Homo sapiens: one gene and its partners. The protein of the gene in region 3 purifies or fractionates together with the protein of the main gene of each other region. This does not show direct contact. Each region holds a gene or a part of one and is shown on either strand. Other genes may lie near its edges.

Evidence for each region. The genes of interacting proteins can lie anywhere in the genome.
Region 1: the proteins of BFSP1 (region 3) and CCDC18 purify together in Homo sapiens (affinity purification with mass spectrometry; one large-scale study listed by BioGRID and IntAct). This does not show direct contact.
Region 2: the proteins of BFSP1 (region 3) and PIBF1 purify together in Homo sapiens (affinity purification with mass spectrometry; one large-scale study listed by BioGRID and IntAct). This does not show direct contact.
Region 4: the proteins of BFSP1 (region 3) and SCLT1 purify together in Homo sapiens (affinity purification with mass spectrometry; one large-scale study listed by BioGRID and IntAct). This does not show direct contact.

What each region holds. Positions count from the first base shown.
Region 1 is NC_000001.11:93,208,224-93,211,723, reverse strand, and holds part of CCDC18 (coiled-coil domain-containing protein 18), read right to left. Parts: intron 923-3,500; coding exon 798-922; intron 1-797.
Region 2 is NC_000013.11:72,823,633-72,827,132, forward strand, and holds part of PIBF1 (progesterone-induced-blocking factor 1), read left to right. Parts: intron 1-3,377; coding exon 3,378-3,486; intron 3,487-3,500.
Region 3 is NC_000020.11:17,496,893-17,500,379, forward strand, and holds part of BFSP1 (filensin), read right to left. Parts: intron 2,149-3,487; coding exon 1,928-2,148; intron 132-1,927; coding exon 46-131; intron 1-45. UniProt on the Homo sapiens protein: Required for the correct formation of lens intermediate filaments as part of a complex composed of BFSP1, BFSP2 and CRYAA. Involved in altering the calcium regulation of MIP water permeability.
Region 4 is NC_000004.12:129,003,040-129,006,539, reverse strand, and holds part of SCLT1 (sodium channel and clathrin linker 1), read left to right. Parts: intron 1-2,663; coding exon 2,664-2,799; intron 2,800-3,500. UniProt on the Homo sapiens protein: Adapter protein that links SCN10A to clathrin. Regulates SCN10A channel activity, possibly by promoting channel internalization.

The sequences.
Region 1 (3,500 bases), on a different chromosome or scaffold from region 3:
CTGTTATAGGACAGAATCCTATACAGCTATTAAAAGTAATTACACAAATCCATTTGTTAATCTACTCTATCTCAATATGAATGAATTTTTTAAATACTGCTGAGTGAAAAAGCAAAATTGCACACAGTATACGGTACATATTTGTGTACATGTGTGTAAACATACAAAAATGAATAGAGAAATATATATCCAATTCATGATGGTGGATACTTAGGGGAAAAATGGGACTAGTCATAAGGATCAAAGGGCATTATTCATCCTGTAATGTTTTATTTTTTATTTGGAGAAACAGATTTAAAACAAATACCACAAATTTTAAGGAGAATCAATCCTGGTTAAGAAGATTCAATTCTTAGTTGTGGAATCACAGATACCTGTTATAATATTCTCTGAGCTTTTCTGTATATTTTTTAAATTCCTCAATTAAGGGTCTTTTTTTTTTTTTTTTAATGGAGTCTCACTCTGTTGCTCAGGCTGGAGTGCAGTGGCACTATCTCAGCTCACTGCAACCACCGCCTCCCGGGTTCAAGTGATTCTCCTGCCTCAGCCTCCCAAGTAGTGGGGATTACAGGCGCGTGCCACCACCATGCCTGGCTAATTTTTGTATTTTTAGTAGAGACGAGGTTTCACCATGTTGGTCAGGCTGGTCTCGAACTCCTGACCTCGTGATCCGCCTGCCTCAGCCTCCCAAAGTGTTGGGATTACAGGCATGAGCCACCATGCCCGGCCAATTAAGGGTCTTAATTACCAATAAAAAACATTCTATTTGCTATAACTGCAGAATCTGAAAATTGTACCTCAATTCCGAAATCACCAATTTATTTGCCTCACAGCAGCCAATGCAACGGTCTTCCTTGTTTGAGAAGCTACTCATCTGGTATTTAGAAAGATATGATTTAAAGCCAAATAATTCTCTTTTTAACTGCAAGTTTAAAAACAAACATATGTAAACTTATGTAAATGAGATGCATTTGCTTTTTTATTCAGAACTTCAAATTTTAAAAACTGTATGAATTTAATGGAAACAACTTAATGTCCATCAATAGGAGAATATATAAATACATTAAGAAATATTAAGATAATTGGAAAACTACAATAGTTAAAAGAAATAAACCTGAGTCACATAAATCAGTATGGATACATCTCATAACAATATTGAGTGAAAAACAAATTATAGTGGCAAACAGTATTTTCATAAAAACACTAAGCAACATATATATATTTCTAGATGCATCGATATGTGACAATATTTAAAACATGGACGAGAAGGATACACATGAATTTCAGAATAATTGCCATTTCTGAGGAGAGAGGAAGATAATTGGGATCTGACAAGGTACACAAAGAAGATTTACCTGTAAAATTTTATTCTAAAAAAACATAGAGTTGATAAGACAATATGTGTCCCAAATTTTACAAATAAGGTGCTACACTAGCATATGCACCTTTCTGTATGTTTGGATAATACAGAATTTTAAAAGACAGTTATAAAAAGGAGCAAGGTTAGCATTTAATGACTTCTACCTTCAAACTATAACCGAATCACACCTCCTAGAAGTAGAAAAAAATCACATTTTCTAATCGTGTCATTCTTAGCACTACAAGAAACAAACGATCAAGCATACATTACCACATTCGGAATCATATCTCAAATGATTCTTTTTTGAGAGACAGGGTCTCACTCTGTCACCCAGACTGGAGCTTATGATCATAGAGCTCACTGCAGCCTCGAACTCTTGGACTCAAGCAATCCTCCTACCTCAGCTTCTCGAGTAGCTAGGACCACAGGCATGCGCCACCATGCCCAGCTAATTTTTGCATTTTTGTAGAGACAGGGTCTCACTGTATTACCCAAGCTGGTCTTGAACTCTTGCTTCAAGAGTTCCTCTCACCTTGGCCTGCCAAAATGCTGGGATTACAAGCAGGAGCCACTGTGCCTGACCATATATGAAATAATTCTTGATACACAAATGAGAATGCCAAATTAAAATTGTTATCTGTATATGATTACTTTCTAATTTCAAAAGCAAACAGTACATTAAAAATCCAAGCAAATAAACAGCATCCTGGGAAAGCAGATATCAGAGGAGCTAAGATCTTATGTTCTAGTTTAAATTCTACTACTTACCAGTTGGGCAAGTTATTTACTTTCTTGGGTCTAGGTTTCTTCACCAATAAAATAGTATTGAATCAGATGATTTCTGAGATTTTTTTGGTTCATAATTCCACAGTTCATAACAGTTTAACATTGGTAAGTCTACCATCTAGTCTACCATACATTCATATCTGAAACCAACCATAATATATTTACCTATAGTTTCCCCTGATCTTTCCTTCATTTTACACCTATTGATTACAAATTCCTGAATAGGTTTACTTACCTTCTTCTTAATCTCATTTATATATATGGTCACAAATATTACTAAAAGAGAAAAGGTGGTAGACCATTATTATAAAAACATTTTAGGCCAGGCGTGGTGGCTCATGCCTGTAATCCCAGCATTTCGGGAGGCTAAGGCAGGCAGATCACCTGAGGTTGGGAGTTCGAGACCAGCCTGACCAACATGGAGAAACCCTGTCTCTACTAAAAATACAAAATTAGCTGGGCATGGTGGCACATGCCTGTAATCCCAGCTACTCAGGAGGCTGAGGCAGGAGAATCGCTTGAACCCAGGAGGCTGAGGTTGCAGTGCGCCAAGATCTCGCCATTGCACTCCAGCCTGGGCAACAAGAGTGAAACTTCGTTTCAAAAAAATAAAAGGCCGGGCATGGTGGCTCACGCCCATAATCCCAGCAGTTTGGGAGGCCAAGGCAGGGGGATCACGAATTCAAAAGATCAAGACCATCCTGGCCAACATGGTGTAACCCCGTCTCTACTAAAAATACAAAAATTAGATGGGCATGGTGGTGCGTGCTATAGTTTGAGCTGCTTGGGAGGATAAGGCAGGAAAATCGCTTGAATCCGGGAGGCAGAGGTTGCGATGAGCCAAGATGGCACCACTGCACTCCAGCCTGGCGACAAAGCGAGACTCCATCTCAAAAAAAGAAAAAAAATTTTAAGTTCTATGCCATTCTAATAAGTACATGAAAAGTTGCTCATCATGAGCCATTAAAAAAAATGTAAATTAGGGCCAGGCATGGTGGCTCACGCCTGTAATCCCAGCACTTTGGGAGGCCAAGGTGGGTTGATCATGAGGTCAGGAGTTCGAGACCCGTTTGACCAATGTGGTGAAACCCCGTCCCTTGTGCCTGTAGTCCCAGCTACTAGGGAGGCTGAGGCAGGAGAATTGCTTGAACCTGGGAGGTGGAGGTTGCAGTGAGCTGAGATCATGCTGCTGCACTCCAGCCTGGGCAACAGAGTGAGAGACTCCGTCAAAAAAACAAACAAACAAAAAAAAAGAAAAACCACAATGTGATACCACTTCACACCCACTAAGATGGTTATAATAAAAGAGACAGACAAGAACAAGTGTTGGCAAGGAAGTGGAGAAACAGGAACC
Region 2 (3,500 bases), on a different chromosome or scaffold from region 3:
CATTATTAAAAGAAATTCAAATGCTTTTCAGTAGCAGAATGGAAAATAAATTGAGATTTACTCTGCAATATAATTTTATGTAGCAGTTAAAATCATTAAATTAGATCTGAATGTATCACTTTTTTTTACTAAAAGTTCCTTATTTTCTGGCATAACATAATGTTCCTAGTTTTGGTTTTCGTTTGTTGGTTTTGTAATTTCATTGCCTCAGCTCTTTGTCTAAGAAGTCTTGATCTCTTAGTGGGGAATGCTATTTAGAAATTTAGGATTTGGGTGCTATGGTCATGGCTACATTGGTCATTATTTCTAGGCCCTTTGAGTAGGCAGAGAAAGTAGAGGGAGAATGAGGAGGAGGCTTAACACACTATGGATGAGATCATACTGATACTTCTTTTTTTTGAGACAGAGTCTCACTTTGTCACCCAGGCTGGAGTGCAATGGCACGATCTCGGCTCACTGCAACCTCTGCCTCCCAGGTTCAAACAATTCTCCTGCCTCAGCCTCCCAAGTAGCTGGGACTACAGGTGTGCGCCACCATGCCCAGCTAATTTTTTTTTTTTTTTTTAAGTAGAGACATGGTTCCATGGTTGACCAGACTGGCCTTGAACTCCTGACCTCAGGTGATCTGCCCACCTTGGCCTCCCAAAGTGCTGAGATGACAGGTGTGAGCCTCTGCACCCAGCCCACGTTGATACTTCTAATTCCAATTCAACACTGCAACAGCCACTTGGATGAGGTGCCAACTGGCTAAATATAGCAAACTTGAATATCACAATAAATATTGGCAATAATGAATTACAGTCCATTGAATAGAATAAGAGTTTATAAGTGCAGGCTAATAATAAATACAGAAAGAGGATCTTAAAATTTTTTTAATACATCATCTTTACCATTTTTAAGTGTACAGTTCAGTGGTAATAAATATATCCTTTTTGGGAAAGAGGATCTTTATGGTTGAAATCCAAGCAATAAATGTATATGCATGTAAGAATGACCATTTTGTAGCCGCATAATAATATTGATTCAGAATCATCATTGGAATATAAAACCATGAAGTATAAGTATGTTAGGGAATAGGATATTTACACAAAGCATCTCTTCACAATTACTTACTAATTTTAAAGGGCAAAAGGATACCTTTATAGTTAAACTCTGGCAGATGCTACCTTAACCTAGTGATCAAAGTTACTATCACCAATAATGGGATAAACTGACGTCACATACCTCAGTACATCTTCACATAACATACTGAGAATGCGTTTCTGTATCAGAGAATCATTTCTGAGAATCATTTCTGTAGTATTCCTGCCCAAGTGCCTAACCTGAATCTAATAATGAAGAAACTTCAGACAAGTGAAAATTGAGGAGCATTCTATGATGCAGCTAGCCTCTGCTCTATAAAAAGTCATAAAACACAAGGAAAACTAAGAAATCTTCAAGGTTAAAGGAGACTAAAACCCCATGACATCTAGATGCATGGTAATAGATTATAATATGATGATAATAGATCCTTGGATTACCATTATGGTAATAGAGCCTTGGCTCAGGGAAAAAAAAATTCACAAAGGGTGTTTTGGGAGACAGTTGACAAAATTTGAAAATGGATTGTATGTTAGATAATATTATATTAGGGCTAAGTCTCCTGAATATGATAATTATACTGTGATTATATAAGAGACTATCTTTAATCTTAGTAAATTCACACTAATTATTTAGGGATAAAGGGACCTAATGTCTCAGTTGAGGAAACAAATGCACATGTATGAGTATGTGTGTGTAGGTGTGTATACACATATAGATACATGACCCTTGACCAACATGGGGTCCACTTATATTCAGGTTTTTATCAACCTAACACCAATCGAAAATACAATTTTCACGGGATGTGAAACCTGAGTATACAGAGGACTGACTGTTTGGTGGGATCTGCAACAACTGCAGGACTTCAGCATGTACAGATTTGCATATTCAGGTTGTGGGGGTGGGTCTGGAACCCATTCTCCACATATACCGTTAAGACACCTGCATATATTCACATATATTAACAAGAGAGAGGGTTTGAATAAATATGACAAAGTAATATTTATTTAATATTACAAAACAAATACAACAGTGTTAATGATTGGTAAGTAAAAGCATTAAAAAGAACCAAGCTGGTTACAGCGTGTCATGTCTGTAATCCTAGTGCTTTCAGAAGCACAGGCAGGAGGATCACTTGAGCCCAGGACTTTAAGACTAGCCAGGGCAATATAGCAAGACCGTCTTTACAAAAAAAAAAAAAAAATTAAATTAGGCACATGGTGGCATGCACCTGTAGTCCTAACTCTCTGGCAGGCTGAGGCTGGAGGATCACTTGAGTGCAGTAGTTCAAGTCCAGTCTGGGTGACATAGCAAGACCCCCATCTCATAAAAAAAAAAAAAAATTTAAAAAAAAGATTTTTTAAAAAATTGCATGTGAAAGCACAAAATAAAATTTAAAAATTTTTTTAATTAAAAATAATCTAAACATTCTAAAAATAAAAAAGCACAAAATACGTATAGTAATATGTATCAGAATAGTAATACTGATAGTCATCTTTACTTATTGGGTTTGTAGGTGATTGTTATTTTGTGCTTTGCTCAGTTTTTCTTCAATAAACATAATATTTTGTTAACTAGAAGAAAAAAGGCTTTCTAAACGTTTTTGAAAAACTGATGCAAAGGAAAACAATTCCTAACAGCCCTCTCTGTGGAAATACCAGGTGGGTCAGTGAAATAAAGTGCAAAGGCACTGCTTCTGACTGCAGGGAAGTAGTTAAGAGTTAGTAAATCTGTTTCTCTGCTCATTTTAAAAAATGTGTGTTGTAGGTTTTAGTCCAATTCTTGGTATAACTTTTTTGGGGAACTTGTCTTAAAATGGAAATTAAAATCTGGGTAATCATAAACAATTTGTGAATGAAATAGTCACAAGAATGCCTGCCTACGTATCTACTATGCAATCTAAATGATAAGTTGTATTTTTTTTTTTACCTTAACTGAACTGAAAGCCTAGAGCCATGTATACATTCTTTAAAAGTTTTAACCTCAAGATAAGATTGAAGATGACTAATGAAAAAATACCAAATGTATGTTAGTAAGTTTTATTATTTACTGTACTGGCTTATGTAGTTTGTATATTCCTTAAAGGTAATAAATTGATATGTATGTATTTGAACAAGGTCTGAAACAGAGTCCCTTCTAAATCTGAAAAGTAGGTACTTTATAGTTCATGGAATTACACTGAAGCCCCATTGCTAGTGTCTCTATTCAGCGTCCTAATACATAGTCAACCCTTTTAAAGTGTACGCTGTACAAGGGGATGTAAAATTTACATGTCTCTTTGAATTTTATTTTAACAGTGAACGTGATGCACTTGAACAGGAAGTAATTGAGCTTAGGAGAAAACATGAAATACTTGAAGCCTCTCACATGATTCAAACAAAAGAACGAAGTGAATTATCAAAAGAGGTAAGCTTATAATT
Region 3 (3,487 bases):
TTTCAAGACAGAAAAAAACAGAAGTCCAGTGTTGGGGAGCGTTACCTTTCCCACCGGATCCAGTGCTGAGAGAGACTCCATGGCTCTGGGTGAACAGGGGAATGGGAGTTTCAATGAAGGCAGAGGTCAGCCTGGCAGAAAGAACCAGAAAGAACAAGCCAAACAGAGGTCAGGGGCAAGAGCGACTCTCGTTAATGTTGAGCAAAAATGAAAAAAAAGCTTTCTCTAGACCAAATTGCTCACGAATTAGATATCATTTTAAACAGACAGCCATACACACATTTACATACTGGATGAGGACATAAAGGAAGTGATCATTTCTTTGAGCTCAAGAGTCATAAACTGTGAAACATACCTATAAAAAATTGTAAAGTGGGGATTGCTTATAACCTAAAAATGCCACTTCTCCATGAGACAGTGCCTTTTTTATTTTTTTGCCTTTTGTTTTTTTGCCTTTTTGATTTTTTTAGTTAGAGTAGTCAACCCAGGCTGAAGTATTTAGGGCAAACAGAGTATGATATCTCCAACTTAAGATATATGTATATATACGTGTATGTATATATATATACACACACACACGTATATATACGTGTGTATATATATATACACGTATATATACGTATATATATACACACACGTATGTATATATGTGTGTATATATGTATATGTGTGTGTATATGTATATATACGTATATATATACGTGTATATATATACGTATATATACATATACACACACATATATACATATATACATATATCTACTCATATATACGTATATACATATATACATATACATGTACACACACACATCATATATAAATAGAGAAAAAATGATAAAGCAATTGAGATAAAATATAAACAACTGGTGAATCTGGAGTATTCAGGAGTTCCTTGTTCTATTCTTGCAACATTTCTATCAATTTAAAATTAGACCAAAATCAGAACTTATAGATAAATAAAAGAGGTATCCAGTCACCTTTCTGTGAAGCCCTGTCCCAAAACAAAAATGTTTACAAAGTCACCGAAATGCCAGCTCCAGACTTATTCTTGCAGATGTGTGCATAGTGTTCACTGTGACATAAATATAATGTGGAATCATGCCAGATACACCGACCAGCACTGGAGAAAGAAAAATAAAATCCTGCTTCTCCTGCCAAGCATTCGAGTGCTCACAGCCAAGAGAGAGCACCCAGCGCGAAGGGAAGAGCTGCTCCTGGTGGGGACCTCAGTTGTGGGGGGCTTCTCTTTTCATTCAGTCGAAACCCAGGAATTTAGCAAGACTGAAGTGAAGAATCACAAATTAATTCCCAACCCGTTCTCTGGAAATCACCGTAGCTATGAATACCAGCATAGCTGGAGAGAAAGAGAGAATTTCCCAGCTTTCTTAAAGTGAGTAGGGATCGACTCACAGCTCCATTATGGAGAAGACCAGACAGCCACATAGTCACAGCCACAGACTGACTCAGCAAGGTGCTAAGAATTGTGAGGATGGCAGCAGGAGCATCACCAACACCTCTGAGTGCCCTCAAGTGCCAGGCTCCGTGCCACGTAGCTCACCTGCAGCACCTCATTAAATACTCCTGGGCATCCCACCTGCTGGGACACTTATGTCCCCAGAGGCCTATGAGCAAAACACAGGCTTCTCAGTGAGGCCTTTTCTGACCACCCTACTTAAAACTGCAAGCATTCCCCCATCACCCCTATTGCCACCACCCTCCTCCCTGCGGGAACTTCCTCCTCAGCACTGGTCGTACCTTCATCCTCTGTCTCCCCTACTAGTTATCCAACACCCATGGGGTCAGGAATTGTTCTGTTTCCTTCCCTGACACATGCCCACTGCCTATAACTGTGCCTGGCACACAATAGGCACTCAATAAAGAGTTGTGGAAGGAATAAGTGGCCTGGATGGGGAGGGCACACGCTCACCTGTTGCCTTCAATCTCGATGATACGATGATACCGGTCCAGCTCATTCTTCAGGGTTTGCTGGGCGACCGCCAGCTGCCGGCAGTCGTAAGAAGACTTCTCCAGGACCCGCTCTGTCTCCTCAATCTCCTTGCGCAGTGTCTCAATCTGCTCGTTATAAAGCTGAATCTCATCGTCATAACACTCATGGGCACTTTTAATAGCTTGTTCCAGAGTTGTTGTCTGTGGGCAAGGACACGCTGTAAGAAAATCCATCCCCCTTCTTCTCTAAGAGACAGACCTCACCAGGAAAAGGAACCTGGACTCGGTGAATGTTTTATGTTGTTTGTGTGTTTCTCTGTCCATTCGAGATTAGCAATGAATCACTTTGGAATCCTTAAGCTAAAAAGCAATGTGAAAACTGAGCTCCTGTGTCCTTACACAATTTTTTTTTTTTTTTTTTTTGATAGAGGATCTCACTTTGTCACCAGGCTGGAATGCAGGAGTGCAATCTCGGCTCACTGCATCCTCGACCTCCCAGGCTAAAGGCTTCCACCTCAGCCTCCTGAGTAGCTGTGACTACAGGCAAGCACCAACATGCTGGGCTTTTTTTTTTTTTTTTTTTTTTTGGTAGTGATAGGGTCCCACTTCGTTGCCCAGGCTGGTTTCAAACTCCTGGCTTCAAGTGATCCTCCCACCTCAGCCTCCCAAAGTGCTGGAATTACAGGTGCGAGTCACCGCACCCAGCCCTTCTTGCACTAATATCAGCACCCTCTGCAATTAGTCCATAAGGAGGCCCACCCCAAAGGCAGTCTGAAGACAAACCTAGAAAATAAAACGAAACCTAGGCCAGGTGGCTCACACTTGTAATCCCAGAACTTTGGGAGGCCGAGGCTAGCAGATCACTTGAGGTCAGGAGTTTGAGACCAGCCTGGCCAACATAGTGAAACCCCATCTCTACTAAAAATACAAAAATTAGCTGGGAGTGGTGGCACACGCCATAATCCCAGATACTTGGGAGGCTGAGGCAGGAGAATCACTTGAACCTGGGAGGCAGAGGCTGCAGTGAGCCAAGACCACACCATTGCACTCCAGCCTGGGCAACAGAGCAAGACTCTGTCTAAAAGAAAAAGAAAAAAAACTTGCTATCGGTGGAATAATATGTATAATTCAAATAAAGTACATTCTTCAGACTTTAATGAACAAGCATAAATCTGATAGCAAAAAAATAAGTAAAAAGAAGCACATACTAAATAGATAAGATGCTACCTTTATTGAAATACTGAGTGGGAGAAAAGTTTCCTTGTTCTCATTCAGCTTTGATTTTCTCCCGAGTTTGGATCGGCAGAGTTACATTTATGTTTTGGTAGCTAAGGTGTATGTGTGTGCCCTTGTGTACACATAAAATAATGTCAGAGAAATACAGTACATTAATCAGAGCAAGTAAAAATTAAGGGAGGAAAACAGAAAGAGATAGTTTTATATTCAGTGTAAGAGGTTGTGATGATACACAAAGACCCACAAATGCTCAGTCATGGGCCACATAACAGTACTGCAGTCAACAATGGACTGCATATAGGAT
Region 4 (3,500 bases), on a different chromosome or scaffold from region 3:
TTGAGACAGAGTCTTGCTCTGTCGCCCAGGCTGGAGTACAGTGGCTTGATCTTGACTCACTGCAACCTCCGCCTCCTGGGTTCAAGCAATTCTTCTGCCTCAGCCTCCTGAGTAGCTGGGACTACAGGCACACGCCACCATGCCCGGCTAATTTTTGTATTTTTAGTAGAGACGGGGTTTCACCACATTGGCCAGGCTGGTCTCGAACTCCTGACCTCGTGATCCACCCACTTCGGCCTACCAAAATGCTGGGATTACAGGTGTGAGCCACCGAACCTGGCTAAAAATTTTAAGACCCTAAAAACTGTCTTACTGTCAGTTATAATTATACTGCTTGTTATAACTACATTTTTTTATTAAATGAATTTTTTTTATTATACTTTAAGTTTTAGGGTACATGTGCACAATGTGCAGGTTAGTTACATATGTATACCTGTGCCATGCTGGTGTGCTGCACCCATTAACTTGTCATTTAGCATTAGGTATATCTCCTAATGCTATCCCTCCCCCCTCCCCCCACCCCACAACAGTCCCCAGAGTGTGATGTTCCCCTTCCTGTGTCCATGTGTTCTCATTGTTCAGTTCCCATCTGTGAGTGAGAATATGCGGTGTTTGGTTTTTTGTCCTTGCGATAGTTTACTGAGAGTGATGATTTCCAATTTCATCCATGTCCCTACAAAGGACATGAACTCATCATTTTTTATGGCTGCATAGTATTCCATGGTGTATATGTGCCACATTTTCTTAATCCAGTCTATCATTGTTGGACATTTGGGTTGGTTCCAAGTCTTTGCTATTGTGAATAATGCCGCAATAAACATACGTGTGCATGTGTCTTTATAGCAGCATGATTTATAGTCCTTTGGGTATATACCCAGTAATGCAATGGCTGGGTCAAATGGTATTTCTAGTTCTAGATCCCTGAGGAATTGCCACACTGACTTCCACAATAGTTGAACTAGTTTACAGTCCCACCAACAGTGTAAAGGTGTTCCTATTTCTCCACATCCTCTCCAGCACCTGTTGTTTCCTGGCTTTTTAATGATTGCCATTCTAACTGGTGTGAGATGATATCTCATTGTGGTTTTGATTTGCATTTCTCTGATGGCCAGTGATGATGAGCATTTTTTCATGTGTCTTTTGGCTGCGTAACAAAGAAATAAGACACTTTAATTCTCAGTGTTTCTGATATTTTAAAGTACAGTGTACTAAATATTAATTTTACTATTTTTTCATTTCATTTTACAATCAATTTAAAGGATTAGGATAATTGATAAGTTATGATGCAGATAACCATATGATGAAAATGATGGAATATTATGTCATCTTTAAAATATTTGCAGAAAACTTTTTAGAATGTGAGAGAATGCATATGTCTGAATACTACGGTTAAAAAGACAGATTATAGTATTAGCAATACAGTATGTCATTGGTCTATTTTTAATGGAAAGTAAAAATTCTGCTAGAAAATATATTACAGAATTAATAATGGTTTTTTTCATAGGACTTGGGGTATCTTTTCTAAAACTTGTTATATTTCTATACTGATCATTTTCTCTATTAGGTAAACATTTCATATAGGAAAAATAAAAGTTTTTAAAAACACTGTTAGATATTTAAAAATAAAAACTGTCTTAACCAATACTTGTAAGTTTTTTAATTAGAGAATAATTTTCAAGCTCTGTCCTTTCTTCAGAGTAATTAATTTTTTTGTTTCTAAAGTGTTTACCTTCTCAGTTTTATTGTATTTGATGAATTTTGTTTTCAATAAATATGTTTTGACATCAAGATTTAAGTTTTCTTGTTTCAAAGGAGATTTGTAATATTAGTAAATCATTCACCTCTAAATGTTTTAGGTAGATGGATGTAGTTTATTTTGTTATTTTCACTTTGTAATGTATTTACTATAAATATTTTCTGCTTATGATTATATGAAATAAGAGTGTTTTCTGAAAATGTACTTTTTTTCTCTTAAGTATGTATTATTTTAAATTAAAACAATCATTCTTTTAAGTTGTACCTTCCTTGCTTTTTTTTGTAGTTAAGGCATGAAATATCTGTAATTTACCTTAATGTTAAGATTAAAGTCAATTTTAAGCCTTTCAGTATTATTGTTGATCTTATATAAGGATGTGCTGAAAAATAAAGCTTCTGATGTCTTGGTTTTATAGCCAGCGACCATTTTCTTCTCTTTGCTTGTTAACTGGAATTAGTAAGAAGTCCAGTGAGTTTGGTGAAACACGCTGAAGAAAATAGCAAATAATTCTACAGGATTTAATATATAATTTTCATTTAATTGACTAGATATACATAGATATTTTAGAATTTTTCTGAATGGCTTATTTTATCATTTAATAAGAGATAATATCTGAATTTTACTCTTTTGAAAATTTTTGAAAAATTGAAACCTCTCTAGGACAAACTGAATCATGCTTCAGTTAATTGTGATCGATTTAATGCATTGAAATTGTTATATAATCTTTTGATTCTTATAGCACAGTATTTAATGGTAATTAAACACTTCTAATTTTTTATTTGAAGTCTACTTAAAAATGATTTTGTTTAAAGAGTTATTGTTGACCCAAATGTTTAATTGACCTCGAAACAGTAATTACTGTTACGAAAATGACTTGAGGCTATCATGTTAACTATTTGTTTCAAAGGTTGCACAGTGAATTAAAAGATGCTGTTGAAAAAAAATTGGAGGCCTTTCCCCTGGGCACAGAGGTAGGAACTGACATATATGCAGATGATGAAACAGTCAGAAACCTTCAAGAACAATTGCAGCTAGCCAATCAAGTGAGTGACATGTATTTTTAAAAATTATATTCTGAATTAACATACCTTTTTAAAAATTCATGTTAATCATTATTTATGGATAACAAAATAATAAAATTGTAACATTATGATTTTTTACAGTTTATAAGAATCGTTACAGGTAGCAACACTTGTAATAAATACCCTCACTGTTAGAAACGTACTTGCCAAATACCCTCACTGGTTGTTACAAATGTGTTTAATTAAAATCATAAAGATTTTGACGTGAGTTTTTTTCTTATGAGAATATTTTTTCTTTCTTTTTTTTCTTTTTCTTTTTTTTTTTTTTAATTATACTTTAAGTTCTAGGATACATGTGCAGAACGTGCAGGTTTGTTATATAGGTATCACATGCCATGGTGGTTTGCTGCACCCATCAACCCATCATCTATGTTAGGTATTTCTCCTAATGCTATCCCTCCCCTAGCCCTCAACCCCACAACAGGCCCTGGTGTGTGATGTTCCCCTCCCTGTGTCCATGTGTTCTCATTGTTTAACTCCCACTTATGAGTGAGAACATGCAGTGTTTGGTTTTCTGTTCCTGTGTTAGTTTGCTGAGAATGATAGTTTCCAGCTTCATCCATGTCCCTGAAAAGGACATGATCTCATCCTTTTTTATGGCTGCATAGTATTCCATGGTGTATATGTGCCACATTTTCTTTATCCAGTTTATCATTGATGGA